Linked DNA regions of Homo sapiens: regions 1, 2, 4, 5 and 6 are each linked to region 3. The links come from fine-mapping of genetic effects on gene expression. A gene starts in region 3. Each other region holds a variant in brackets. All regions are shown on one strand. Distances are between the middles of the regions. Region 1 has its middle 11 kb from the start of SH3KBP1. Region 2 overlaps BCLAF3 (BCLAF1 and THRAP3 family member 3). Region 3 holds the start of BCLAF3 (BCLAF1 and THRAP3 family member 3). Region 4 overlaps MAP7D2 (MAP7 domain containing 2). Region 5 overlaps BCLAF3 (BCLAF1 and THRAP3 family member 3). Region 6 has its middle 21 kb from the start of SH3KBP1.

Evidence for each region. PIP is the estimated chance that this variant, and not a neighbour inherited with it, causes the effect.
Region 1: its variant is the best candidate, but not a certain one, in a credible set for the expression of BCLAF3 in esophagus muscle (GTEx, PIP 0.79).
Region 2: its variant is the best candidate, but not a certain one, in a credible set for the expression of BCLAF3 in monocytes (TOPMed, PIP 0.74).
Region 4: its variant is the best candidate, but not a certain one, in a credible set for the expression of BCLAF3 in whole blood (TOPMed, PIP 0.89).
Region 5: its variant is the best candidate, but not a certain one, in a credible set for the expression of BCLAF3 in lung (GTEx, PIP 0.86).
Region 6: its variant is the best candidate, but not a certain one, in a credible set for the expression of BCLAF3 in prefrontal cortex (CommonMind, PIP 0.76).

Annotation. Positions count from the first base shown.
Region 1 is chrX:19,896,286-19,900,393 of GRCh38, reverse strand. No RefSeq gene overlaps it. Among named protein-coding and RNA genes, the nearest start is that of SH3KBP1, 11 kb to the right of the region's middle. The variant C/G (reference allele first, on the strand shown) is at 1,859.
Region 2 is chrX:19,938,442-19,942,549 of GRCh38, reverse strand. The region is part of intron 8 of BCLAF3 (BCLAF1 and THRAP3 family member 3); the gene reads left to right. Among named protein-coding and RNA genes, the nearest start is that of BCLAF3, 51 kb to the left of the region's middle. The variant G/A (reference allele first, on the strand shown) is at 1,969.
Region 3 is chrX:19,988,884-19,992,985 of GRCh38, reverse strand. BCLAF3 (BCLAF1 and THRAP3 family member 3) reads left to right here and starts at 1,925. Exons shown (of 12, transcript NM_001367774.2): 1 at 1,925-2,078. LOC729609 (a long non-coding RNA gene) reads left to right here and starts at 3,207. Exons shown (of 2, transcript NR_024440.1): 1 at 3,207-3,300. RefSeq lists silencers at 1,583-2,012, 2,053-2,102, 2,173-2,542.
Region 4 is chrX:20,041,332-20,045,439 of GRCh38, reverse strand. It overlaps MAP7D2 (MAP7 domain containing 2), which reads left to right. Exons shown (of 17, transcript NM_001168465.2): 7 at 916-1,076; 8 at 2,811-2,938. Among named protein-coding and RNA genes, the nearest start is that of MIR23C, 26 kb to the right of the region's middle. The variant G/C (reference allele first, on the strand shown) is at 2,500.
Region 5 is chrX:19,946,631-19,950,738 of GRCh38, reverse strand. All of the region lies in intron 8 of BCLAF3 (BCLAF1 and THRAP3 family member 3), which reads left to right. Among named protein-coding and RNA genes, the nearest start is that of BCLAF3, 42 kb to the left of the region's middle. The variant G/A (reference allele first, on the strand shown) is at 1,815.
Region 6 is chrX:19,906,514-19,910,513 of GRCh38, reverse strand. No RefSeq gene overlaps it. Among named protein-coding and RNA genes, the nearest start is that of SH3KBP1, 21 kb to the right of the region's middle. The variant TTG/G (reference allele first, on the strand shown) is at 2,164.

The sequences.
Region 1 (4,108 bases), 93 kb after region 3:
CATCATGCCCAGGCTGGTGGCATAGACACCTCTATGCTCTGCTGGCTCAGAAAATAGAAGGAAAACGGATCAACAACAGCCGCATGGCTTTAGGATGACCTTTTAACCTTTTGGAGTATTTGCTTGCAAAGCTTTTAATGTATTTTTTAAGTTAAAAGGCAACTGGGAGCTGGGCGCGGTGGCTCACACCTGTCATCCCAGCATTGTGGGAGGCTGAGGTGGGCCGATTATGAGGTCAGGAGATCGAGACCATTCTGGGTAACACAGTGAAACCCCGTCTCTACTAAAAGTAAAAATAAAAAAATTAGCCAGGCCTGGTGGCGGGCACCTGTAGTCCCAGCTACTGGGGAGGCTGAGGCAGGAGAATGGCGTGAACCTGAGAGGAGGAGGTTGTAGTGAGCCGAGATCACGCCATTGCACTCCAACCTGGGCGACAGAGTGAGACTCCGTCTCAAAAAAAAAAAAAAAAGGCAACTGGGGGGCGGGCGGCTCATGCCTGTAATCCCAGCACTTTGGGCGGCTAAGGCAGGTGGATCATTTGAGGTCAGGAGTTCAAGACCAACCTGGCCAACATGGTGAAACCCTGTCTCTACTAAAAACACAAAAATTAGCCGGGCGGTAGTGGCATGCGCCTATAATCCCAGCTACTTGGCAGGCTGAGGCGGGAGAATTGCTTGAAATCGGGAGGCAGAGGTTGCAGTGAGCCAAGATCATACCACTGTACTCCAGTCTGGGTGACAGAGTGAGACCTTGTCTCAAACAAACAAACAAAAAAAAGCAACTGGGGATGTGTGTGTAGCCGTTTTATCACTTAGTGTTATACCATGAGCATTTTATGTGTATACAGATTTCATACCAAGCAAAACACTCACGAAGATCCATTGACATTTTATATTAAGACCATTGAATAGAGTTCTAAACCATGAAAACAAATGAGCTGTTTTGTCCAATTTCAGACGATGTCATCATTTCTAATGGAATCAGACACAGCTGACTTTACATTCCCAAGCCTGCTCTCTCCTGCTAAAGAACATTGATTGGGCATGACATTTAGCCTCTCGGAACCTGAGTTCCTTCCCTTGTACAATGTTAATACTAACATATAACTGACACTGTTGTGAGAATTTAAAAGCAGATAAGAGTATCGCAGCCCCCTCCTCCATAAATGGTAGCGATTGTTATCTTAAGATTATCCTTTTTGCCCAGAGAGACTTTCAAAAGACCCATAACACTATTTTGTGGCAGGTCAAACCTTTTCATTCCTTTATTCAGGCACTGAGAAAAGGTCTAGTCCATATCTGATAGTTTTTGTGTGTGTTGTTTATAGTTATGAAAGACTGAGGCGTATATAAAACTTTTCAGAAAATTTAATTATGAACACATGTCAAAGTCAAAGTTTTGTTTCAAGATTCCCCCCCTTTTTTTTTTTTTCTTTTCTTGAGACAGAGTCTCTATCGCCCAGGCTGGAGTGCAGTAGCACGATCTCAGCTCACTGCAACCTCCGCCTCCCGGGTTCAAGCAATTCTCCTGCCTCAGCCTCCCAAGTAGCTGGGATTACAGGTGCCCACCACCATGCCTGGCTAGTTTTTTTGTATTTTTAGTAGATACAGGGATTCGCCGTGTTGGCCAGGTTGGTCTTGAACCCCTGACCTCAGGGGATCTACCCGCCTTGGCCTCCCAAAGTGCTGAGGTTACAGGCATGAGCTACCGCACCCAGCCCCAAGATTCCCTCTTATTCCCCCTTGGTTGGGACATTTTCTGGGAAGTGAATGGTTAGATGATCATTGTCAGACTGGACACAAGGTGAAAGAATGTCTGGCTAAACATCACTAGACTTCTGACCTTAGGTCAGCTGAGA[C/G]GGGGGCAGGGGGTGGAGGGAGCAGTCTCCCCGACAAGGGCTTAATCTCATTAAAGAGTATCAGAGAATTGCTTTAGCATTTTTTCAGGAATTCTAATTTCTTCCCAGAAGAAGATTATGAAATGCATTCAAATTTAGGAAAAAAGAAAAAGGTGATTTGAGAGTCCTCCAGGGAAAATAGTACCCCCTCTTCAGTGTTCTCAATTTCCATCATTAGAGCACTAAAGAGGAATTACTAGCTCCAAAAAATTACAGTGATAATAGGTGGAAATCATCATATATCTTAGTATCATTACACACTTTAAAAAATGTCTGGAAGAATATTCCTTCAAGAGTTAACAGTGATTATCAATTATCTCTGCAGTAATTGGTAATTGTGAGATGATGGAAGATTTTCACCTTATACACTGTATCCTTAATATTTTATTTTAGTTTAGTTTATTTTTGGGACAGGGTCTTGTTCTGTCACTCAAGCTGGAGGACAGTGATGTGATCATGGTTCACTGCAGCCTCGACCTCCTAGGCGCAAGCAGTCCTCCCACCTCAGCCTCCCGAGTAGCTGGGACTGCAGGTGCGTGCCACCATGCTTGGCTGATTTTTTATTATTTTATTTTTGTAGAGATGGGATCTCACTATGTTGTCCTGGCTGGTCTTAAACTCCTAGGCTTAAGCAATCCTCCTGCCTCAGTCTCCCAAAGTGCTTGGATTGCAGGCATGAGCCACTGTGCCTGGCCTGTTTTATTTTTTAAAATACTGAGCAGAGATTACTTTTCTAATGATAATGATATGAATATATATCGCAAAACATCAAGTCAGTTTTACCAGTTCAGGGCTATGCCTCACTGGTAGCTCCCTTGAGCCCGTTTTCATTGCCAAGGACCAAGCAGTTCATCAGATGACAGAGCGTTCACCTTGGCTCTGAGGAGTTGAGGTACAGCGGGGATTCTCACACTTGAGCTGCTGATCAAAACACAGGTTACTGGGTCCCAGCCCCAGAGTTCCTGACCCGGAAGGCCTGGGGCGGGGTCCCCAGCGTGCATCTCTAACAGGTTCCCACATGCTGCTGCTGCTGGGCTGGGGACCACACTTTGAGAGCTTCTGTGGTCCAGAAAAGAAAACTTCAGCTGGGGAATAGAATCCTTAACCCAGGGCTGGCAAGCAAAACAAAGAAGATGAACTTGACTTACTTCCCACTTTTGCCTCTGGCTGGTCTGTAATTATTTTTGAGAAGAGGAACTTGATTTGACTGACTCTATTTAATAAGAAGTCGTGCTAGAAAAGGGTTGTGCCATCTCTTATTAAGTGACCGCCTGGTTCAGAGACTTTTCAATTAAGTCCCATAGCCTCGGGCTTGAGGATGCATCTGAGGTTGGCTGTCTGCTTTGGGGCCTTCACAATCTAGGGGATGGCTGTGGCGTTTCACCGTCAGCTCAGGCCACTGGTCTTGGTTTCTCTGAACCCCGAGGTGATGGGGTGGTGGTTATTGTAATTCTGATTTCCTGTTTGGGAAGCAGTGTGGGGGTATTATTGGAGGAGTTAAAACACAGGGAATATCGTCCCCACCCAGCCCCATATAACCCACCAATCACATATGTATTCATTCTCTTTTGGTACTAAAATATACATAACAAAATTTGCCATTTTAACCATTTATTAATGTACAGTTCAGTGGCATTAAATACATTCACATTGTTGTGCGACCATCACAACCATCCATCTCCAGAACATTTGCATCTTCCCATACTGAAATGCTGTAACCATGATCACTCTTTTAAAATCTTTAACAGCTTTTATTGAGATATAATTTGCATATCACATAATTAACTTTTTTTTTTTTTTTTTTTGAGACGGAGTCTCGCTCTTTTGCCTGGCTGGAGTGCAGTGGTGCAATCTCGGCTTGCTGCAACCTCTGCCTCCTGGGTTCAAGTGATTCTTCTGCCTCAGCCTCCCGAGTAGCTGGGACTACAGGCGCACACCACCATGCCCAGCTAATTTTTGTATTTTTGGTAGAGACAGGGTTTCACCATGTTGGCCAGACTGGTCTCAAACTCCTGACCTCAGGCAATCCACCCGTCTCGGCCTCCCAAAGTGCTAGGATTATAGGTGTGAGCCACTGTGCCTGGCAATTCACCCATTTTAAAATGTATAATTCAACAGTTTTTAGTATATTCACAGAGTTGTGGAACCATCAACACAATCAATTTTAGAACGTTTTGTCACCGCAAAATGAAACCCTGTACCCATTAGCTG
Region 2 (4,108 bases), 50 kb after region 3:
CAAAGACAAAAACCACATGATTATCTCAATAGATGCAGAAAAAGCCTTTGACAAAATTCAACAACCCTTCATGCTAAAAACTCTCAATAAATTGGGTATTGATGGGACGTATTTCAAAATAATAAGAGCTATCTATGACAAACCCACAGCCAATATCATACTGAATGGGCAAAAACTGGAAGCATTCCCTTTGAAAACTGGCACAAGACAGGGATGCCCTCTCTCACCACTCCTATTCAACATAGTGTTGGAAGTTCTGGCCAGGGCAATCAGGCAGGAGAAGGAAATAAAGGGTATTCAATTAGGAAAAGAGGAAGTCAAATTGTCCCTGTTTGCAGACGACATGATTGTATATCTAGAAAACCCCATTGTCTCAGCCCAAAATCTCCTTAAGCTGATAAGCAACTTCAGCAAAGTCTCAGGATACAAAATCAATGTACAAAAATCACAAGCATTCTTATACACCAGCAACATACAAACAGAGAGCCAAATCATGAGTGAACTCCCATTCACAATTGCTTCAAAGAGAATAAAATACCTAGGAATCCAACTTACAAGGGATGTGAAGGACCTCTTCAAGGAGAACTACAAACCACTGCTCAAGGAAATAAAAGAGGATACAAACAAATGGAAGAACATTCCATGCTCATGGGTAGGAAGAATCAATATCGTGAAAATGGCCATACTGCCCAAGGTAATTTACAGATTCAATGCCATCCCCATCAAGCTACCAATGACTTTCTTCACAGAATTGGAAAAAACTACTTTAAAGTTCATATGGAACCAAAAAAGAGCCCGCATGGCCAAGTCAATCCTAAGCTAAAAGAACAAAGCTGGAGGCATCACACTACCTGACTTCAAACTATACTACAAGGCTACAGTAACCAAAACAGCATGGTACTGGTACCAAAACAGAGATACAGATCAATGGAACAGAACAGAGCCCTCAGAAATAACGCCACATATCTACAACTATCTGATCTTTGACAAACCCGAGAAAAACAAGCAATGGGGAAAGGATTCCCTATTTAATAAATGGTGCTGGGAAAACTGGCTAGCCATATGGAGAAAGCTGAAACTGGATCCCTTCCTTATACCTTATACAAAAATCAATTCAAGATGGATTAAAGATTTAAACGTTAGACCTAAAACCATAAAAACCCTAGAAGATAACCTAGGCATTACCATTCAGGACATAGGCATGGGCAAGGACTTTATGTCCAAAACACCAAAAGCAATGGCAACAAAAGCCAAAATTGACAAATGGGATCTAATTAAACTAAAGAGCTTCTGCACAGCAAAAGAAACTACCATCAGAGTGAACAGGCAACCTACAACATGGGAGAAAGTTTTCGCAACCTACTCATCTGACAAAGGGCTAATATCCAGAATCTACAATGAACTCAAACAAATTTACAAGAAAAAAACAAACAACCCCATCAAAAAGTGGGCAAAGGACATGAATAGACACTTCTCAAAAGAAGACATTTATGCAGCCAAAAAACACATGAAAAAATGCTCATCATCACTGGCCATCAGAGAAATGCAAATCAAAACCACTATGAGATATCATATCACACCAGTTAGAATGGCAATCATTAAAAAGTCAGGAAACAACAGGTGCTGGAGAGGATGTGGAGAAATAGGAACACTTTTACACTGTTGGTGGGACTGTAAACTAGTTCAACCATAGTGGAAGTCAGTGTGGCAATTCCTCAGGGATCTAGAACTAGAAATACCATTTGACCCAGCCAACCCATTACTGGGTATATACCCAAAGGACTATAAATCATGCTGCTATAAAGACACATGCACACGTATGTTTATTGCGGCATTATTCACAATAGCAAAGACTTGGAACCAACCCAAATGTCCAACAATGATAGACTGGATTAAGAAAATGTGGCACATATACACCATGGAATACTATGCAGCCATAAAAAATGATGAGTTCATGTTCTTTGTAGG[G/A]ACATGGATGAAATTGGAAATCATCATTCTCAGTAAATTATCGCAAGAACAAAAAACCAAACACCGCATATTCTCACTCATAGGTGGGAATTGAACAATGAGATCACATGGACACATGAAGGGGAATATCACACTCTGGGGTCTGTGGTGGGGTTAGGGGAGGGATAGCATTGGGAGATATACCTAATGCTAGATGATGAGTTAGTGGGTGCAGCGCACCAGCATGGCACATGTATACATATGTAACTAACCTGCACAATGTGCACATGTACCCTAAAACTTAAAGTATAATAAAAAAAAAAAAATAAATAAATAAATAAAAAATAAAGACTTCTTGAAATTTACACATGATAACTTGGCCAAAATTTAGTCCCATGGCCATGCCTAGCTGCAGGGCAGCTGGGAAATAGATTCTTTAATCTGAGCATTCATTTGCCTGGTCAAAAATCAAATATCAAAGGATTTAATTTTTGTATTGTGGCAAAATATACATATCCTAAATTTACCATTTTAACCATTTTTAAGTGTAAAATTCATTGACATTGAGTATATTCACAGTGTTGTACAATCACCACCACTATCTACTTCCAGAACTTTTTCATCTTCACAAACAGAAAGTCTGTTTCCATTGAACAGTAACTCCTCATGCTCTCCTCTCTGCAGCCCCTGGTAACCTCTATTCTTTCTGTCTATATGAATTTGCCTATTGTGGGTATCTGATATAAGTAGAATCAGACAATATTTGTCGTTTTGTCTCTGGCTTATTTCACTTAGCATAGTGTTTTCAGGGTCAATTCATGTTGTATCATGTGTCAGAATTTCATTCCTTTTTTAAAAAATTCATTCTCTTTTAAGGCTGAATAATATTCCATTGTATGGCTGTACTACATTTTGTTTATCTGTTTTTCTGTGGACATTTGTATTGCTTTCACCCTTTGGCTATTGTAAATAGTGATGTTATGCATATTGGTATTGTCATCTTTTTGGTTATAGCCATCCTAGTTAGTGTAAAGTGGTGTCTCATTGTGGTTTTGATTTGCATTTCTCTAATGACTAATGATGTTGAGCATCTTTCTATGTGCTTATTGGCCATTGGTATGTCTTTGGAGAAATTTCTATTCAAATCCTTTGCCCATTTTAAAATCAAAGTATTTTTGTTGTTGAGGTGTAGGAGTTCTTTATATATTCTGGATACAGCTCCCTCATCAGATATATGCTTTGCAAAGAGAATTTTAAAAAATCCATTGCTTTGTTTGTAGAAGTAGTCATACACACTAATGGTAATCATTTGGAAAAATATAATAAAGTATAAAATCAAAAATATAAGGCATTCCTAATTTTACCAGTCAGAGATGACCACTGTTAATATTTAGTACATTTCTTGTCATTTATTTTTTCTGGGCACATATGTGTATATTTTAAATAATTGAAATTATCCTCAATATACAACTTTGCACTTTACTCTTTTGATCTACTGTCGTGAGCATTTTGACAAAGCATAGGCCTTTTTAACATTTAAAAAACCCCGAGTGTCTATTTCATGTCAGATTCTGGGATCAGAGCTGGGGCCACAAAACGAATCATCCACATTGCTTCCTCTGAAGGAATAGCAACTTGTTCCGTTAAACAGACAGGTACACCAGTAGTTACAAATACGGAATGATAGGTGTTAAGACCTAAAAATGCTACATGGGCACATAGCAGGGAGTACCTAGTTCACCTCAGAAGGGTTTAGGAAACTCTTCCTTGAAGAGGTACAAATGGATCTAAATCTTTAAGTTAATCTAAGTAGAAGGAAATGGTCACAGAAGGAACTGCACATGCAAAGGTGTAGAAGCAGGAGAGATTGCTTTGTGCCAGGAACCACATGTACTTCAATATTCCTGGCTGGGCACGGTGGCTCACGCCTATAATCCCAGCACTTTGGGAGGCCAAGGTGGATGGATTACTTGAGGTCAGGAGTTCAAGACCAGGCTGGCCAACATGGTGAAACCCCGTGTCTACTAAAAATAGAAAAAATTAGCGGGGTGTGATGGCGTGCACCTGTAATCCCAGCTACTCGGAAGGCTGAGGCAGGAGAATCAGTTGAACTCAGGAGGTGCAGGTTGCAATGAGCCGAGATTGTGCCACTGCACTCCAG
Region 3 (4,102 bases):
AGGGCAAAGCAGGGGGCTCTGCTTACAAGAGTGGTTGAAGGCTGGGCACAGTGGCTCCTGCCTGTAATCCCAACACTTAGGGAGGCCGAGGCAGCAGGATCACTTGAGCCTAGAAGTTCCAGAACAGCCTGGGCAACATGGCGAAACCCTGTCTCTACAAAAAAAAATTTTTTTTTTAATTAGCTGGGCATGGTGGTGCACGTCTGTTGCAACAGCTACTCTAGAGGCTGAGGCAGGAGTGTCACTTGAGCCCAGGAGTTTGAGGTTACAGTGAGCTATGATTATGCCACTGTACTCCAGCCAGGACCACGACCAAGTGAGACCCCTGACTCTTAAAAAAAAAAACAACAAAAAAAGGCCGGGACGCGGTGGCTCATGCCTGTCATCCCAGCACTTTGAGAGGCTGAGACAGGCGGATCACTTGAGATCAGGAGTTTGAGACCAGCCTGGCCAACATGGTGAAACCCCGTCTCTACTAAAAATACAAAAATTAGCCGGGCATGGTGGCGCACACCTGTAATCCCAGCTACTCAGGAGGCTGAGGCAGGAGGATCACTTGAACCTGGGAGGCAGAGGTTGCAGTGAGCCGAGATCGCACCACTGCACTCCAGCCTGGGTGACAAGAGCCAGACTCTATCTCTAAATAAATAAATAGGCCGTGCGCTGTGGCTCACGCCTGTAATCTCAGCACTCTGGGAGGCTGAGGCGGGAGGATCACCTGAGGTCAGGAGTTCGAGACCAGCCTGGCCGACATGGGGAAACCCTGTCTCTACTAAAAAAAAAAAAAAAATTAGCCGGGCATGGTGGCGCAGCCTGTAATCCCAGCTACTCAGGAGGCTGAGGCAGGAGAATCACTTGAACCCGGGAGGCAGAGGTTGCAGTGAACCGAGATCACACCACTGCACTCCAGCATGGGTGACAGAGATTCTGTCTCAAAATAAATAAATAAGTAAAAATAAAAAAGTGGTTGTAGTCAAAGGCTATGGGTTTAAGTTGGGTAGTGGGATTTCAACATTTAAGGTTTTAGAGATGGAGCAGTATCAAGTGATGAATATCTAGATTTTCTAGACTACGGGTGAACAAAGTAGAAGTAAAGGTCATTCGGATTGAGGAACTGAAGGAAACCAGGCTGGGTTGTGGATGTTGGATTCATTGGGAGGATGGCAGTAAATCAGATGGAGAGGAAAACTAATGCCAGACAGTCAGTAGGTGACAGTGACAAGGGAGGGCAAAAGGTGTTACTACCAGATGGCACAGAGCCTGAAAGAGCTATTTCACAAGGGGAAGAAAGAATATCAGTGTCAAGCGGAAAGCTTCAAGAGTGAAGAAGACACACTACCTTTGAGGCTGGTGCATGGAGTGTGGGAGGGGAGAAACCAAGCGAGTAGACAGAGATGAGGCAATCTTTTGAATTGGATGACGGATAGATGTTGGTACCATCCGACCATTTGGGAAGTCCAGAGGGGAGGCTTTGTTTTCCGGGAATATGCTTAATTTGAGGAGTGGGAAATGGATAGAGGGTAGGTGAATGGTTAGAGATCTGCACAAAGCTGGAAGGCCCACGGGATCAAGTTCTGCCCATGACTGAGGGGTGACCTCCAATCCCTGGGCCTTAACCCCCAGGATCCCTGGACCTGGAACGCCCATTAGGTCCCCTCCTTTCCGGCGAGAGGGCGGCAGAGGGCGCAGGCGCTCTAGCCGGACCCGGCGGGCGGGTGGCAGAGGGCGCAGGCGCCCTGGACAGAGCGGCCGCAGTGGGAACGGCCGGCAGGGGGCGCAGCGCTCTGGTCCGAGAAGCCCGGGCGGGGCACCCTCGCCGGGAGAGTAGAGGATAGGGGTCGGCTGGAGAACGGGCCCAGTGCGAGGCCGCGAGCAGTGGGCGGGGCCGGGGTGGGGGCGGGGCGAGGCGGTTCCGGAAGGAAGTGGTTCCGGGTCCCGCGGCCCGGCAGAGGTGGCTGGGGTGTCGCTGCTGTGGGAGGCGGCGGCAGAGTGAGGGGCGAGGCCCGAGGGGCCGGCGGCGGCGGCGGCGGCGGCGGCGGCGGCGGCGGCGGCGGCGGCGGCGGGGGCTTCCCGGCCGGGTGAGCGGCTCGGGGGGAGGCGGGGCGAGGAGGCCTGGGCCCGCAGGGAGGGCGTGTCCGCCACCCAGGAGGGGCGGTTCTCGGGGTGGCGGATGGGGCAGCGGGGAGGATGCGGCGGTCCGACTCGGGTTCTGTTGGGACAGCTCCTCTGCGCCCCGTAGGTCCCTCGGTCAGCGCCTTCCCTTGGGCGCGGCGACCCGGCGCGGGTTTCCAGGGGACAGCTGCCCGGCGCCCCTGAGGTCCCTCGACAGGCACGGCGACCCGGGCACCTGCTGCCGCGACCCTGATCCTCCGCCGTCGTCGGGCAGGTTGCGGTCCCCGCGGTTCCCTGCATCTGTTAAGAGGGCGGGGGCCGGGAAGGCGGTGTCCGGGGACGGTGCCCTTGTCCTCGAGGCGGCCCTGGACGCGTCGCCTGCGGGGCCTGAACCGAGGACCCCCCCGTACCCCGCTTTGTCCTGGTGAGGCGCTCCTGCCGCGCAGCGGCATCTTCCTCTGTTAACGTCGAGAATGAGTAGTGAAGGCTGCTCATTATCCTGCATTGTAAAGTAAAACTTGTCTTTTTAGAAGCGTCTCCTGAAAATTGGCGCATCTCCTGTGCTTCTCTGGGTTGTATTGGGAAACTGGGCCAGTCGCTGTCAGGACTGTCCTGTTGGTAGGTCTCGAGGGAAAGAAATGGGAGAGAAACCTACCCCGTAAATATTTTCCTACTCAGGTGCTTTTCGAACTACCTATTAGGTGATTGCCTTTTTTTTTTTTTTTTTTTTTCCTGGAACAAATTACAAACTGCAGGTAGAAATCAGGAAGGCCTCTTTAGGCTCCTCGCCAGGCAGCCTTTTTAGCATTTTTCTGAATGTGAACAGGTCCAAACGACAGAGCAGAATTTGAAAAGAAAGGTTTTGCTGCAGATTCATAACGAGGACTTTATTTTTCATTGGTATTTTAATGGTAATGGTATAGCAATGTTTTATTTTTAATGTTTTTTTTAAATGGCTACTAAAATTTTATTTTGAAATCACAGCTGTTTCAGTCACCCCCAAGAAACCTTTAAAACGTCTTATTAGAAACATTTTTATATATAGGAACATTTAGCCATTTATACACATTTCTAAGATAGAAATCACAATGAAGATACGTTGTTTCACTATTCCAAGTTCCAAGTAACCATGGTGAATATGGTTTCCCCATTCCAAGTAACCATTGTGAATGTGGTTATACACCTCCAGTCTTTTTCTATGCAGAGCTTAATACATGAGTTTTTCTAAAGTGAATTCTCTTTTGTAATTATCTTTTTCTGACTAGATAGCATGCCATTATATGGCTGTAATATTATAATTTATTTCATTGGTCATTCTCAGTTCTTCCCTATTAAAATACATTGTTGGGTAAATGTAAAAGTCCGCATATCTATGATTACTTTCGAATCTCACTCTGTCGCCCAGGCTGGAGTGTAGTGGCACGATCTCGGCTCACTGCAACCTCCACCTCCTGGGTTCAAGTGATTCCCCTGTGTCAGCCTCCCGAGTAGCTGGGACTACAGGCGTGTGCCACCATGCCCGGCTAATTTTTGTATTTTTAGTAGAGATGGGGTTTCACCATATTTGCCAGGCTGGTCTCAAACTCCTGACCTCCAGCGATCTGCCCGCCTCGGCCTCGCAAAGTGCTGGGATTACAGGTGTGAGCCACCGCGCCCGGCCCATGATTACTTTCTAAGTGTACATTCCTAGATGATAGAATTATTGGGCAGAGTATGCACATAAGGGTTTTTTTTTTTTTAATGTGAATTGCTCAATTTCCCTCTGGAAAGGATATGCTGTTTTGCACTCCTACCAACAATCTGTGAGTGTCCTTACCCACACCCTAGCAAAAGGCAACATTTAAAGGGATTTCTATAGGAATACTTTTGAGCCATACTTGTACTCTCCAACCAAGTACAACTACCCCTCTCTAGTCATCACTTTTTTCTTATTTGTTGATAGCACTTCAGCTTCTCATCTTTTATTGCGCCTTTACTATTTTGGTAAAGA
Region 4 (4,108 bases), 52 kb before region 3:
TCCTCCTGCCTCAGCCTCCAGAGTAGTTGGGACTACAGGAGTGTGCCCCCATGCCAAGCTAATTTTTGTATTTTTTGAAGGGCTGTGGTTTCACCATGTTGCCAAGGCTGGTCTCAACCTCCTAAGCTCAGGTGAGCCACCATGCCCGGCCCATGGCTATGATTTATTATAGCAGGAGGAAACATGAAAAAACTAGCAAATGGAGGAGGTGCATGGGACTAAGTTCAGAAGTAACCAGGTGTGGATTTCCAAGAGTCTTCTTCCAGTGGAGTCACATGGGACGAGCTTAATTCCTCTACCAACACATTGTGACAACATGTATGAAATGTTGCCAGGCTGGGAAGTTGGCTAGAAACTCAGTGCCCAGGGTTTTTACTGGGGGCTAGATATGTAGGCATCCCCTCCCAGGCACATACCCAGATTCCACACTCCCACAAGAAAAGCAGATGCTTAGCATAAACCATACTGTTTGTATAAACAGTTTAGACACCCATCAGTTAATGGTGGGAACCCTCCTGAAATCTAAGTTCTCAGATGCCAGCCAAGGGCCACCCTTATAAGCAGGCCTTTCCAAGCACAGCAGTCAGATCTGCTATGTTAACCCTTTTGTGCACAAGGAAATCGATGTTTAGAGAGGTTAAGTAACCTGCCCAAGGTGATCCAGCTATTAGGTGGCAGTGCTAGGTCTCTGTGGCTCCAAAGTACAGACTTTTAACCCCTGAAATAAACTTGAATAAACTTGACTCTTGAGTATGGGAGCCTTTTTAGGGTAAGATCCATCCTGTGTACAATAGAAAAGTATGATATTGATTGCCCAGGTCATATTTTAACAGAAATGTGTTCTTCCCAACTCTCTGCTCTACTTTTTCCATCTGTACTCTCTGTCCTTCTGGCTGTTATACTGTAACTTTCTAGTATTCCATGTCTGTCCTCGTTTAGCTCCTCTTGGCCCTCTTAACCCTTCTTACAAGTCTTCACCCACTCGAAACATTGAGAAGAAGAAAGCTACATCTACGTCTACATCTGGTGCAGGAGATGTTGGGAAAGAAGCCCTTTCAGGAGGAGAGGCCTCTCTGGTAGGTTTAAAACCACCCACCCACTCACTCCTCTAGACTGTGTTCTGTCTGATGGTGTGATTACTTCTGTGCTTGACCTGGGCTGTCTGTTTCCATCAATCTCCTGGGACTGCTCAAAGCAGGAAAGGGTAGATTTAGTTCAAAATTTTACCCAACCTTTGAAAATCATTTAACTTTTTGCACCCTCTTAAGTCTTAGTACCTTGGAGCAAATTCTTAATGATGTCCTTGTCACAGCCTGCCCTCCAGAGGACAGGAGTCAGAAGGAATGTTCTAAATATCCTCTGTCTTCCTCGTTACGGATATCTGATTCTGGGTCAGTCTTGCCCGTGCATCTAAGTGGAACTGAGGATCTACGTCAACTTTTACCTACAAAAGTAATCATTAAATATTCTTTTGAGATGAAGTCTTTTTATGTTGCCCAGGCTGACCTTGAATTCCTAGGCTCAAGTAATCCTCCTGCCTCAGCCTCCTGAGTAGCTGGGACTACAGGCACATGTTACTATGCCAAGCTTAAACATTTTTGATGGCATACTGGCACTATCAGTAAATTAAATGTTGAGAAGGCACCCCCAATTGTGTCTATTTATTTAGAAATTACACAGTGCCATACTACTTTTGTTAGTTATTGATTGCTACTTAACAAATCACCTCAAACCTTGGCAGCTTAAAATAACAAATATCTATTAATTCATGGGTTCTTTGGGTCAGAAATTCAGAGTGACTTAGTGGTTCTGGTACAAGGTCTTTCATGAGGTGTGGTCAAGATGTTGGCCAGGGCTGCATCATCTGAAAGCATGGCTGGGCCTCATCTGAGACGGCTCATTCATGGCTGTTGGCAGGAGGCCTCGGTTCCTCACTGCATGGGCCTGTCCATAAAGCTGCTTGAGTATCCAAATGATGCCACAGCTGGCTTCCCTCCAAGCAAGCTATCGGGAAGCTGCAGTGTCCTTTAAGTAAGTCACTAAGATCAACCCACACTCAAGAGGAGAGGAATTAAGCCTCACCTGTCGAAGGGAGGAATATCAAATAATGTCAGGACTTATTTCAAAACTACTTCATTTTATAATGCCATATTTTCTTTTCAAATCTGTTGTGGCTCTTAGAAGTGCATGTTTTAGACTCTCGGATTTTACTATACAGTGGATTAGTGTTGAAAGGGATTGATGGATGTGAGTGTGGGGGCCAATTGAGGACTTGCTGCAGAAAAGTGTGATAGGGAGAGAAGGGAGCTAACCCTTGTGGAGCACTTTCTGCAGGCTGGGCACTGATGTCTGTTCCCTTCTGCCAAAGGAGGTAATGGGAAGACCTACAGGACTAGATGGGGTTGCAGACCCATTATACCATGTATACCATCAGGGGCCACAGCTCACTGTCTTGGATGTTGTAACCACATTTTCACCCACCTGTAATTTTTTTGTAGT[G/C]ATTTTACATTTTTATACTCTTTTCAGTTCCTATATGTCTAAGACCGTAATATGGTTCAGTTGTTAACTCTTTGAAAGACAACAAGGAGAAGGAAATCTTTGCATTTTGAGGCTGATTTTTTTTAACTGGATAATGCAAATGTGATGACCTCATCCTGCCTCCCCGCAAAGATGCCTGTCATGTGAAGCGTTATAGCTTCATATCGATCCCTCTGAAAGAAAGCTGTGCATTGTTCCATCTGGGGTATTAGTCTTATAAATTGTGGAAGTAGTGCCAGTCATGGACTGTGGCTATCCTGTGTCCCCTACAGGTGGAGAAGGTGAAGCGGGGGCAACGAACAGCAACTTCTCTTCCTGTTGTGAACTTCGGGTCCCCTCTGAGAAGATGTGAGTTTTCTGGAGGCATTCCTAAGAGACCATCTTCTCCTGTGATATCCAAGTAAGCATCTCTCCCCTTTGCCAGACAGTCTGACTGTCATGAGTCAGTTTGCTAGGGCTTTGTGCCATCCAGTGTTGCAGCTCCTGCTCCCCCGTGAGGCGTGGCCAGCCAGAAGTGGTAAGTGGGAGAAATGCTGGCCTTGGAGTTACGTGGCTTGACTCTCTGTGTATCTTCTGGGTGAAAGATCCTTTGCTAAGGGACCCCAGTGCGTAACAGGGCTTTTATTTACCAAGATGATGCATTCAGCATTTTCTCTTTAGGTCCATGAATTCCATTCTGCTTTTCTGGTATTCTTTTTCCAGTTGCATTTGGATTTAAGTGATTGCATTGGGCTTGGGCTCCTCCTGACATTCTCCCCCACCTTGTTGTCTCTCTCTTTAATAGAGAGACAATAATAACTTGTCAGCCATGATCAACAGTATTTTAATGAAGCAAATATATATGTGTGTGTGTTTTTAAGAAATGGGGTCTTGTTGGGTTGCCCAGGCCTGGAGTACAGTGACTGTTCACAGGCATAATCACAGCACGCTATAGCCTCCAACTCCTGGGCTCAAGTGATCCCCCCGCCTCAGACTCCCAAGTAGCTGGGACCACTATGCCCATGCACCATAACACCACCATGCCTAATTTTTGTTAGGAACTAGGTAAACTCACCAAGGAAACCATGTAACTGAAAAATTTACAATAACTTTGTGACCACCAAGGTCTTAAGTCATTAAAATATTTTACTGACAGTAACTGACAAAAGACTCAGTAAATAACTCAGTCCAGTAGGACAGTGGAAACCATCTTTAGTAGGACAGAGAAAGAAAGAGAAATATGATTTAATTTGGGAATATAGGAAAGTTTTTATATGGAGAGAATCATATAAACCTTATTCAGTGTATCAGTTTAGTTCAGAGAATGTTGGATAAACACAAGTTTAATGAAAACTTGCGAATTTGTCAAAAATATTTAAAGATGACATCAGCTCTTAAATTTCCAATGTGTTGCTTTCTAATAGAGACTTTTTCACTACTATTAATAATTTTTTTTAGAGATCACTATGGTTTTGATACACTACTAATACCTGCCATTGATGTGTTTGTCCTCCATAAGGAAAATCTTTCCATAGCACATCACTGAATTAAAAGCCTACTTTTCTTTCTTTCTTTATTTTTAGTTCATTGC
Region 5 (4,108 bases), 42 kb after region 3:
ACAAACATCCTGTTATCAGGGAGCTTTGGGTTTTACCATATTTTTACATTTTTTGTGTGATGATAATTTTCATTTTAATATAGGGATTTGCTCCTTCAAATCCATCTTATATGTTTAAGTGAAATCTATTAAAATGTTTCCAGGTTATTCAGTGATTCTCATATGCGGTTTGATTTAAACAACAAAAACTATGGGGTAGGTGAATATTTGAGGTCTTCGTAATTCTGATGAGGAGTGTTACCACTTTTAGAATATTAGCAGGAGGCAGGACCAGCAAGTTTACAGACTATTTAGCTTGAGCTGATTGAAACTCTGATACATTCTGCCCTTTAGATTCTGGGTTAGTCTTTGAATAGTAGAAAATTTCCTGAAGTCAGTACAGTTATCTTTTGCGACTCTTTGTGGATGTCTATACTGGATAATTGTGGATCACTGTACTGACAAAAAGTGAAAAAAATCCACATTTTTGGATGTCGTCCATGAAATTGAGGCAGGTGTAGTAGAAAATGCAGAGGAGACCTAAGTTTGAATCTCATCTCTCTCAGTTTACAAGCTGACCGATCTTGGACAAATTTGCTTAGTCTCTGGAGCCTCTTCATCTGTAAAATGATGATAAAATCAATTTATGCTATGGGGCAGTTATGAGTATTAAACGAGTTGGCACATGTGAAGTACTTATGTCATATATGGCAAATAGATCCTCAGTAGATTTTTCTTTCTTAACCTCATACTTCTGTTTAGGGGCTCTTAGTAGTCTAGATCAACCCCAGTTTATCTCTAGTTCTGAACACCATGTGGATGGAACTCACGGCAACTCTGGGGCCCCATATGATTATGAGGTATAATTGAACAGGACAACATTTCCAGTTCACTTGAGTTCTTATACTACTTGGATCTCCCAAAAAGTGAGACTGTATGAATACAAAGAGACAGTGCTAATTGTTTTTCCATAATCTTTTCTATCAAATTGCTAAGATAATGTATTTGACAAGACTTTTAAGTCAAGTCTGTAGCTAACTAGGTCAGAATATATGGACTTGATGCTGACAATAAATTCAGAACTAATTAAAACATAGTGAAACGATGTGTTGAGGTATATAAAACAATTGAAAATGAAAGAGTAAAAATGTTGTCCCTTGCTGGGTGAAAGTCTCCAGTCTCCTAATATGATATGGTTAATGCATGACATGACTGTGCTCCTTAATGACACAAGCTCTCTATCATGCTTTTCTTGACTCAACAAGTGTAAGAAACCCAGTACCAAGAAACAGGATTTTAAAAACAGATTTAAGACAATCAGCATATTTTAAAGATCATAAGATGCTTTAGGATGTATCTTTACCCCTTGACGTGATTAAGAACTTGAGCACTGGAGTTGGACCTGAGTTCAGTGGCTGGCTCTTGGATTCCTAGCTATGTGACTGACTTTGGGAAAATTATTTTGTCTCTGTTTCCTCATCTGTAAAATAGGGATAAGAGTTGTACTTACCTCACAGTGGTGGTTAAGATTAAGTAAAGTGATGAGTGTAAGGTAGAGTAGCTGGTCAGCATTAAGTATTATGAATGCTAGCTTTGAGGACAGTGTGGTAGTGTGCAAGGATGTGTTCCTACAAGCTGTCTTTTGCTGGGTCTGTTGGATTATTTTATTTGTATTGGATAGGTGGTGAGGCATAGTGGAGCCATGAGGAGTTTTTAAAAATGAGACATTACTTAACATTCATCCTGCAAAAATAAACAATTCAGTAGTTTTTAGTATATTAACAAACTTATGCAACCATCATTACTATCTAATTCCGAAACATTTCATCACCCCA[G/A]AAGTAAACCCTCTACCCATTAGCTGCCACTCCCTGCCCCATTTCTCCTTCCCCCTTAGTCCCTGGCAACTACTGTTCTATTTTCTGTATCTATGGATTTGTCTAATCCTGACATTTCATATAATCATTTTTCTTTTCTTTTTTTTTTTTTGAGACAGGATCTCTCTCTGTCACCCAGGATGGAGTACAGAGGCACAATCACAGCTCACTGCAGCCTCAACCTTCCGTGAGGCTCAGGTGATTCTCCCACCTCGGCCTCCCGAGCAGCTGGGACCACAGGCTCCTGCCACCACACCCGGCTAATTTTTCGTATTTTTTTTTTGTAGAGACGGGGTTTCACCATGTTGCCCAGGCTGGTCTCAAACTCTTGTGCTCAAGGGATCTACCCGACTCAGTCTCCCAAAGTGCTGGGAGTACAGGCATGAGCCACCACAACTGGCCTGACATTTCATATAAATTCAATAATATAATATGTGGCCTCTCGTAACTGACTTCTTTCCTATAGCATAATGCTTTTAACGCTCATCCATGTTGTAGCATGAGAATTCTTATGTATGGCTGAATAATATTCCATTGTATGGCTATATCGTATTCTCTTTATCCATTCACCAGTTGATGGACATTTGGGTTGTTTCCACTTTTTGTCTGTTTGTGAATAACTGTGCTGTGAACATTTGTGTGCAAGTTTTTGTGCAGATACCTGTTTTCGTTTCTCTTCAGTATATAGCTAGGAGTGGAATTGATGAGTTTGATGGTTACTCTATGATTAACTTTTTGAGGAACTGCCAGACTGTTTTCCAAAGCGGCTGTGCTATTTTACATTTCCACCAGCAGCATCTGAAGGGTCCAGTTGCTCCACATCGTTGCCAACTCTTCTTATTAATCTCTCACTTTATCCTAATTCAGTTTCCTTATTTAAATAAGAAAAATATATTATCCTTTTATCTTAGAAATTCAGTTTATAAAAATTGACCTCATTATATGTTTTTATATAAACTTTTAAAATCAAGTCAGGGTAGTTTCCACAGAAATACGAAAGAAATGAAACATGATGCAATCATAAGTCATAGGATGTAGTGATTTCTCACCTGTGTGGCTTTCCTTCAAAAAGTTGTATGCAGCCTTTCTGTCTGTGTTTGCTCACTGTTGTATCCCCACTGCCCTGAGCTCAGTTCATATTTGTTGAATGAATGAAGAGTTCCCAAAGGAGTAGACAAGACAGAGGATACCTAACTTGTAATACATTTAGATTTGGGTTACTATTCCCTGATGCCTTAGGATCTTTCACAAGCACACCTAACACTTGGGGGTTCTGTCTAGCCTCTAGGACCCATCTGTTCTCTACAGGTGCTCCTTAACTTATGATAGGGCAACATCCCAATAACCCATTGTAAAGTAAAAAAAAAAAACTGTAAGTTAAACCATTGTAAGTTGGGGACGGTCTGGATTTACTTCCACTTCTTACCCGTTTCTTACTCTGATGTCTCCATGTTTTCTCCTGACACACTATTTCTGCCTTTTCTAACTGGAGTTACTAAGTTTCCTACAATGTAAATGAGTTGTTTTGTTATAGAGGTATGGAGTGTGTTTGATAAAGTAGCTTAAAAATAGTATCAGTGGACTTGAAGAGGACATCAAACTGCCAAGAATTTCTTTTATTTTTTATTTTTATTTTTTAACAAGGAGTTGGAACGACAGACTGTCGTTTTAGCTGGGCAGGTTACGGGAAAACATCAGTTTTTGTTCTTGCTATTGCAGTAGTCATAATCTATACTGAAGTAGAGTGAACTTTATAAAGATATATTCATATAGTCAACAGATATTTATGTATTGATTTCTTTGTTCTAGTTACTGTTCTAAGGACTGGGGATATAGTGAAAAACTATATACAAACCTTTGTCTTCGTGTTACTTATAATTTAATAGCAGAAGAAAGAAAATAAATACATGTCAGTGGAGTGATAGGTGAAAATAAGGCAGAAGAGGAAATTTAATAGCAAAGAGTGACATGTGTGATATGGTTTTATTTAGGGTGATCATGGAGTACACTTATGACTTTTAAAAAATGTAGCTGGGTTGTGAATTAAGTGAGGGTGTTAGCCATAGGGTTATCTGAGGGGATAGTATTTCAAGAGAGGGAACAGCAAAAGCAAAGACCTTCAGCATGCCTGCTTTTGTTTAAGGAATAGAAAGGGGGACAGTGGGGTTGTGACAGGGTGGTAAAGGGAGAGAGTAGATGAGGCCAATCACGAAGGGCTTTGAAGAACTGAAGGACGTGAAGACTTTGTATTTTAT
Region 6 (4,000 bases), 82 kb after region 3:
TCAGGTTTTCTACTACCCAACCTTGTCTCCCAGCAGCTCTCCCAGGAGACCTTTGTTTCATGGTTTCCTGAAGATGCAGGGATGAACCATCAGGCTCTGTGCATCTGCTCTGGGCCAGGTGCTATGTGAGAAGACGTGTCATTGGCCACCCTCGGTGGGCTTCCTTCTGACCCCAAGCCTTGGCGTATTCATTCACCTCCCCAGCCTCTTCCCTCCCTGCCATTGATCCACATTCTACCTATTTTTCCGTATGGGCATTTCTACCAATACTTTAGTTCACCTTTTTCCACTTCAAATTCTTAGCATTTCGAGAACAGAGGTCTTGTAATTTTCCTTTTCACTAAGAGGCTTGGAGGTGAATTATAGTCACCCTATTATGCTATGGAACACTAGGTCTTACTCCATGTATCAACCTATTTTTGTACCCATTAATCATCTCCTCCTTACCCGCCCCTCCCCACCACCCTTCCCAGCCTCGTAACCATGCTACTCTAGCTCCATGAATTCAGGTTTTGTGTGTGTGTGTTTTTTTTTTAGCTCTCACATATGAGTGAGACCATGTGATATTTGTCTTTCTGTGCCTGGCTTATTTGACTTCACATAAGTCCTCCAGTTTCTATCCATGTTGTTGCAAATGACAGGATTTCATTATTTTTATGGCTGAATAATAGTCCATTGTGTATATGCACCATGTTTCCTTTATCCATTCAAAAGGAAAGAGTGGAACTGGAATGTTTCTTTTTTTTTTCTTTTCTTTTTTTTTTTGAGACGGAGTCTCCCCTTGTCGCCCAGGCTAGAGTGCAGTGGCAATCTTGGCTCACTGCAACCTCCGCCTTCCAGGTTCCAGTGATTCTCCTGCCTCAGCTGTTGGAGTAGCTGGGATTACAGGCATGCACCACCATGCCCAGCTAATTTTTGTATTTTTAGTAGAGATGGAGTTTCACCATATTAGCCAGGCTGGTCTCAAACTCCTGACCTCAAGTGATCCACCCGCCTTGGCCTCCCAAAGTGCTGGGATTACAGGCGTGAGCCACGGCACCCAGCTGGAACTGGAATGTTTCTAACACAAATAATAAATGCTTAAGGTGATGCATATCCCAATTACCCTGATGTGATCATTACACATTGTATGCTTATATCAAAATATCACATGTTGCCTACAAATATATACAACTATTATGTATCCATGATAATTAAATATATATATATTTTGGCCAGGCATGGTGGCTCATGCCTGTAATCCCAGCACTTAGGAAAGCTGAGGCAGGAAGATCACTTAAGGCAAAAAAAAAAAAAAAAAAATAGAGTCATCAATAGATACTAAATATATGAGGCAATTTTGATGAGCAGGACATTTCAATGTGTAAAAGTGTCTTCTCACAGATCGCTTATTTATTGCAAGGCAGGAAGGAAAAACAGCAATTATACAGTGGAAAGAACAGACAACTCCTTGACTAGGGGATGGAAATTAACATCACCAAGGAGGAGCAGATGGACATCAGTGTGATACTGTTACAGTGGGTAGCTAGTCTGGTATGAGCAGGGCAGGAGAGGGCTCCCCCGACCCACATACCAGGAGTGTCAGGCAACCATCAGGTGATAGTCAGGCGGTGGTTAACTGTCTCTCTAAAATAATGGTGATCAGCAGCTTCCCGATAAGATCTCAGGAGTTGGGAGGAGTAACGCAAGACCCCAGAAGTATGCCAACCTATAAAACCCCAAGTCAAAAGGTCAAACCGTGCACTTGCTTTTCAGGTCGACTGCTTGGCTTTCTTCCAAGTATACTTCATTTCATTCCTGCTCTAAACTTTTTAAATAAACTTTCATTCCTGCTCTAAAACTTGCCTCCATCTCTCCTTCTGCCTTATGCCTCTCAGTCCAATTTTTTCTTCTGAGGAGGCAGTAATTGAGGTTGCTGCAGACCCGTACAGGTTCATTGCCGGAAGATATTTTGGTGCCGTGTGACACGGATATGGATTCTCCACTGCTAACAATAGATAACACAGCATCACTAATATGGTATGTTGGCTGGGAATGCAGCACTTGAATATAATCATAAAGAATCATCAGACAAACCCAAAATGAAGACCATTCTGGTTTTTAAAGAGGGCCTCCATTCTTTCTTTCTTTTCTTTTCTTTTCTTTTCTTTTTTTTTTTTTTTT[TTG/G]AGACAGAGTCTCCGTCTGTTGCCCAGGCTGGAGTGCAGTGGCACAATCATGGCTGACTGCAATCTCAACCTCCTGGGCTCAAACGATCTTCCCACATCAGCCTCCCGAGTAGTTGGGACCACAGGTGCATGCCACTGCACCTGGCTTTTTTTTTTTTTAAGAGATGGTGGGGGGCGGTGGGGGGGTCTCCTTATGTTGTCCAGGCTGGTCTTGAACTCCTGACCTCAAGCAATCCTCCTACCTTGGCCTCCCAAAGTGCTGAGATTACAGGTGCGAGCCATCATGCCCAGGCATGTTGATGATTTTGGTCCAAACCAATCTTCATGGCTATGGTGGCAAAATGATGATTTTCTAACTCCAGTGCTCCCTCTACACTTACCAGCTGGCATTGGCATTCTGCTGTAAGCAAGACTCCTCCCTTCTTCCCTGCTTATTTGTCTATTTATTATTGATATGGATTCATTTCTACTTTTTCAGTGGCTTATAATTCATTATTGTCCTTGATTATTTGGGAGCTCAAATGATCCTAGCTTTGGCCAGTGGGAGCCCCTTTAAGCTGATTGCTGTGTCCTCTTGATATGGACCTATCATTCCTTTTTTGACTTTATCTTTTTTATTTCAGTAGGTTTTTGGGAAACAGGTGGTGTTTGGTTACGTGAATAAGTTCTTTAGTGGTGATTTCTGAGATTTTGGCGCACCCATCACCAAGCAGTGTACACTGTAACCAATCTACAGTATCCCTTGCCACCCCCCACCCTTTGCCTCAAGTCCCCAAAGTCCATTGTATCATTCTTATGCCTTTGCATCCTCATAGCTTAGCTCCCACGCATGAGTAAGAACATACAATATTGGTTTTCCATTCCTGAGTTACTTCACTTAGAGTAATAGTCTCCAGCCAGGTGCAGTGGCTCATGCCTGTAATCCCAGCACTTTGGGAGGCTGAGGTGGGTGGATCACCTGAGGCCAGGAGTTCGAGACCATCCTGGACAACATGGAGAAACACCGTCTCTACTAAAAATACAAAAAAAAAAAAAAAAAATTAGCTGGGCGTGGTGGCTCATGCCTGTAATCCCAGCTACTTGGGAAGCTGAGGCAGGAGGATCACTGGAACCCAGAAGGTGGAGGTTGCAGTGAGGTGAGATCACACCACTGCACTCCAGCCTGGGTGACAGAGTGAGACTCTGTCTCAAAAAAAAAAAGTCTCCAATTCCATCCAGGTTGCTACGAATGCCATTATTTCATTCCTTTTTCGTTATTTCATTCCTTTTTATGACTCAGTAGTATTCCATTGTGTGTGTGTGTGTGTGTGTGTGTGTGTGTGTGTGTGTACCACATTTTCTTCATCCACTCGTTGACTGATGGGCATTTGAGCTGGTTCCATATTTTTGCAATTGCAAATTGTGATATGCACCTATCATTTCTTTTTAGCACTTCTTTGCTCTGATGCATAACAAAATGTTTTGGTCTTTATCTTGGACATTCCCTGCCCCAGGCTTGAAATCATTCATTTTTCTAAGGAGTCCTGGTTCCTTTTAGTGGGGGATGGTATTAGAGTCCAAGACTTGGGCCCTAGTGCCCATTGCTACTGGAGTGTCTTTGCTTATAAGCATTTTCAGCAGCCATATCTAGGAAACACACACACACACATACATGCATATATATACATATTTTAGAAATGATGAGGTCACACTGGCACCTACCATCCATCTCCATAGGATTCTTCCTTGCCTTCTCCTGTTTGATATTTGTATGTCCCTTCCTCCACAGTGAGAACCCTGGCTCCCAACATCAAACGATTTAATCATTTGCTCAATCCCATAATACATCTAAAGTA